Linked DNA regions of Homo sapiens: region 2 is linked to region 1. The links come from fine-mapping of genetic effects on gene expression. A gene starts in region 1. The other region holds a variant in brackets. All regions are shown on one strand. Distances are from middle to middle. Region 1 holds the start of SYNPR (synaptoporin). Region 2 overlaps SYNPR (synaptoporin).

The links. PIP is the estimated chance that this variant, and not a neighbour inherited with it, causes the effect. A credible set is the group of variants that fine-mapping cannot tell apart.
Region 2: its variant is the best candidate, but not a certain one, in a credible set for the expression of SYNPR in thyroid (GTEx, PIP 0.83).

The regions. Positions count from the first base shown.
Region 1 is chr3:63,277,277-63,279,776 of GRCh38, reverse strand. It overlaps SYNPR (synaptoporin), which reads right to left and starts at 1,469. Exons shown (of 6, transcript NM_001130003.2): 1 at 1,226-1,469; 2 at 1,035-1,100. The coding sequence starts at 1,243.
Region 2 is chr3:63,334,845-63,337,344 of GRCh38, reverse strand. All of the region lies in intron 2 of SYNPR (synaptoporin), which reads right to left. Among named protein-coding and RNA genes, the nearest start is that of SYNPR, 58 kb to the right of the region's middle. The variant T/C (reference allele first, on the strand shown) is at 1,132.

The sequences.
Region 1 (2,500 bases):
TATGTAGCCACTGCCAGATATAAGCCCTTGGAGCTAAGATCTGGGAACAGAGAACAGGCTCTTACATAATTTCCCAGCTAGTCAGTGTTAGGGACTCTGATTAATGCTACATGACAGGCTTTGAACTTTCTATTCAGATAGGTTTGCTTGCCTTTTGGAGTTCCTAGCAAGACGAAACGTGTGACCTGCAGATTTCATTCTGAATAACCATCATCCAGCCAACAACACTGACATGGCTCTGTGGCCCTGTGGGTAACCGTTTCTGTGCCTCACTCCTCTGCCCATAGACAAATTGCAATAAGAGCGTCAGGGTGGTTTCACGGAAGTGGAATACAACTTCCTAAAGCCCAGTCGCTGAAGAAAGCCATGGCAAACAGGCTGGTGGGCTCTTCTGGGTATAATCAGAAAAGCCCTAGAGGAGTGGCCAGAGAAAAGAAACTATAGTAGGGAAGGAAGGAGTTCTGCTCTCTACCCGCCGCCGTTTATAACAGTCTGTAATAGCTTCGCAGCATCTTTCCCTCCCTGAAGCTCCCGCGGAGCAGTTGAACACGCGCTTCCAGCATCCCAGTCCCGCAGAGGAGCTGTCTCAGTTCTGACCAACTTTCTGAGCTTGGCCAAGTCTTCCCGGCTCCTCCGCTCAACTATGGGTCCCTCCACCCATCCCCTCATCCCCACGAAGGTCCAGGTGAGGGGCCAGAACCCAGCGGCAGCCCTTCCATGCGCCCCCCTCCCCTATCTCCCAAGGGGGAGGTTTCTTTCCACAGCCCCTGCGCGTCTGCAAGCGGTGAGGTGAGACGACACTTGTCTAAGCCCCTGCAAAAATGCGTCCACACTCCCGCCTCCAAGCAGGGTGCCTCGATTTTGTCCTCACCACCTTGGAACGGCATCTTAGGAGGGGGCAGGATTGAAATCCCCGGCTTGAGGGTTGAATCTCCGGCTTGGAGCAGAACTGAGCAGGGAGCACCCCATCCGACCTCTCCTCACCTGATAGCTGGCTGCCTGGCGCCCCTCCCTGCACACACACTGCTACTCACCAATTCCAGGGCTCGCAGGAAGGCAAGGGGCTCCTTCAGCACCCGGAAGGTGCCCGCAGAGGCCAGCTTTGGGGGAATGAGGCGAGAGAGAGAAAGCAAAGCGTGAGGAAGGGGCTGGGGGCGCCTCTCCCAAGCCGCGGCATCCCCCGCCCCCTGCTCCCAGCCAGCCGCCCTGCCCAGTTCTGTCTCACCTGACTCACAGGGTCCATAGCTCGCCCTCGCTCGCTCTTCTCATCCACCAGTTCTTTTTAAAAATGAAGTTCGCTTGGCACCACCGTCCTCAGGGCCAGAAGCCCCTTCGGGAGCAGCCAGAGGAGCGACACCCTGGAGCAGCCCGGCGAGGGCAGGGGGCCTCGGGGAGCCCACCCGCTAACGCTGGGCTCTGCGCTCCGGGAACCCAGCGCGTCGGGGAAGCGAAGCGAGTCAGCGAGGGGTGGGCAGGGAAGAGCTGGGGCAGGGTAGATACAACAGGGGAGGGGGAAACCCATGGAGCCAGGGGAAGGCTGTCATTGGCCAGCCGCGCTCCAGAGGGGAGGGCGAGGAGGTGGGCGAGGCAGGGCCCACAGACATTGGTGCAGGCTCAGCCGTGCGCCCGGTGCCCTCTGGCTCCGGGGAAACTTTGGGTCTGTTGGTTTGGGAAAGCGGGCTTGGCACCATCAGCAAGACGGCTGTCCACCTGAAGAAGGGGTTTCCAGGTAGGAGGAAGACACCCACACTTTACCTGAGACATCTGTGTGAGTTCTGATGACTTCCAAACAGCAAAATAATAATAATGATAAATACATAAAAATAAAAAAATAACTATTTGTTGGCTCTTTCATTCATTCCTTCAAGCCTTTATGGAGCATCCTTCCTGTGGGCAGGCAGTGCTTAGGTGCTGGGGTACATCAAAAAAACAGGATAAGCATTGTCACTTCCCCCAGGGGAAGCAAAAGGGGAAAAATAACTTGCAATGTGGTCTGGACAGTGGCGCAGAGCAGAGCACAGGGGCCATGGGCACAGGGCAGGGGATCCATCTTGGCCTGTGGATGCCAGAGAGAGGACCAGGACAGAGGAAACTGCCTGGAGAGAAGAGGTGGAAACAAATTAATCTTGAATGTGGGACCATGCGCCAGTGGAAAACAGATTTAGCAAGGATGAAATGGCCAAGGTAAAACATCTCATGAAAGGCTAAACAGGGAATGAAATTTAGGTACCTTTCAAACTCATTTTATTTCTACTGAGATCTTTTGCCTGATATCTGACCCCCAAATGAACTCCCTTGTCAAACTCATAAATATAACACTGGGTCCCTCCTCCAAAGTTAGACTGTTTTCTTGAAACTTAGTGAAAGGTGGTTCACGTTGTTTACTCTTAGTGGGCTAATCTTGCTGAATATAATAAAAACAACAACAACCAAACAAGTGAGTTCTTTCTATGAGCTGAAAACTGTGCTAAGGGCTTTACAAACATTACTTCATTCAATA
Region 2 (2,500 bases), 58 kb before region 1:
TTTTAACCATTCTAATAGGTAAATAGGTATGTAGTTCTTATTGTTGTTTTAATTTGCAGTTCTATAATGACATTTTATGTTGAGCATCTTTTTTTTTTTTTTTTTTTTTTTTGGAGACAGAGTCTCACTCTGTCACCCAGGCTGGAGTACAGTGGCACAATCTTTGCTCACTGCAACCTCTGCCTCCTTGGGTCAATCAATTCTCCTGCCTCAGCCTCCCAAGTAGCTGGGATTACAAGTATGTGCCACCACACCCAGAGAATTTTTGGATTTTTAGTGGAGACAAGATTTCACCATGTTGGCCAGGCTGGTCTCGAACTCCTGACCTCAAGTGATCTGCCCACCTGGACCTTCCAAAGTGCTGGGATTACAGGTGTGAGCCACCATGCCTGACCTTTCATGGACATATCTTCTTTGGCTCTAGGTGTCTATACAGTTTTTAATTGTTGAGTATTAATAATTTTTTATATATCCTGGATACAAGTGCTTTATCACATATATGTTTTACAAATATTTTCTTGCAATCTGTGGCTTGTCTTTCATTCCCTTAACAGTGTCTTTCACAGAGCAGAAGTTTTTAATTTTAATGAAATCTAACTTAATTTTTTCCTTTCATAGATTGTGCTTTTGGTGATGTATCTAATAATCATTACCAAATCCAAGATCACTTAGATTTTTTTCTATGTTGTCTTTGAGAAGTTTTTTAATTTTGCATTTTACATTCAGGTCTCCATCTATTTTGAGTTAAATTTTGTGAAAAGGGTAAGCTATTGTATAGAGTCTTTTTTTTTTTTTTTTTTTTTTTTTTTTTTTTTTTTTTTTTTTGCATGGGAATGTCCACTTGTTCTAGTACTATTTATTCAAAAGATTATCTTTTCTCCATTGGATTGCATTGAGACTAAATTTTAAACATAAACTTTTTAGATTGTAAAATAGTGCACGTTTGTAACTACAAAGTTCATCATTGTTAACATTTTGATGAATATTTAATTAGCCTTTTATTCGTGTGTATGTGTGTTGTATATTTGAGATCCTTTTATGCATTGCATAATCTCTTCCCTGTACTATCCTGATAGTTTTTAGTTTCATCTTCAAGCAGAAATTCATAGTTGTATCCTCTAGAAAATATTA[T/C]ACATACTCTTTTATAATTATTTTACCTAATTAAATAATGTAAAATTTTCCAAGTAAATATTTTTTGTCACTGCATATTATTCCATGATATATTTAATCACATTCGAATGGTCAGACATTTAGGTTGTTTTTAACATTTCTATTTTCTGCTAAATGAGACATAAAAAAGGAAGCTAATGGGAGGCCGAGGCAGGCGGATCACCTGAGGTTAGGAGTTCAAGGCCAGCCTGACCAACATGGAGTAACCCCGTCTCTATTACAAATACAAAATTAGCTGGGTGTGGTGGCACATGCCTGTAACCCCAGCTACTGGGGAGGCTGAGGCAGAAGAATCGCTTGAACCTGGAAGGCAGAGGTTGCGGTGAGCTGAGATTGCACCATTGCACCACTCCAGCCTGGGCAACAAGAGCAAAACTCTGTCTCAAAAAAAAAAAAAAAAAAAAAAAAGGAAGCTAATATGGACTTGAGTGTGTTAGAAAAGTGGCCTTTAAAGACTAGGAGATAGGCAAGCAAAAGGGAGAGTGTGTAAAGGACAGTGGCCAGACAGAAGTACAAGGTCAAGAGGAACAAGGGAGTATTGTATGCCAAGCGAATACCTTGGTTAAGGCTACCAAGATCAGAGGAAGCTCTCAGGTTAACAGTTTCTCAAAGGCATGACCATTCATTCCTAGGTCATGGCTTTAATGTGCGTTAATTTGGTTAAACCAAATTCAAGGAAAATGGAAATCTCCTGGACTTTCAGGTACAGTGGCTTCAATTGGCCCTGATTTTCTTCACGTGCCAGTGCACCAAACCCAACACTTATATTATTGGCCCAAAAGTACTTGCAGTTTTTGCCATTTTTTTTTTTTTTTTTTTTTTGAGACGGAGTCTCGCTCTGTTGCCCAGGCTGGAGTGCAGTGGCGCAGTCTCGGCTCACTGCAAGCTCCGCCTCCCGGGTTCACTCCATTCTCCTGCCTCAGCCTCCCGAGTAGCTGGGACTACAGGCACCCGCCACCACGCCTGGCTAATTTTTTGTTTTTCAGTAGAGACGAGGTTTCACCGTGTTAGCCAGGATGGTCTCGATCTCCCGACCTTGTGATCCACCCGCCTCGGCCTCCCAAAGTGCTGGGATTACAGGCGTGAGCCACGGCGCCAGGCCTGCCATTTCTTTTAATGGCAAAAACCGCAATTACTTTTGCATCAACCTATTAACAGTTGTCTCTCCCTGGACTCTGTACCCCAGAGAACAGAGCTGTAGCCCAGAGACCACACAGTGCAGGGTGCATGTGAGGGGCTCATTCCTATTCTGTAATTAAGCCTTCTTCCAGTATCAGGTTTTAAAAGTATCTGCTAGTGGAACTATTAGGTTGGTGCAAAGGTTATTGCA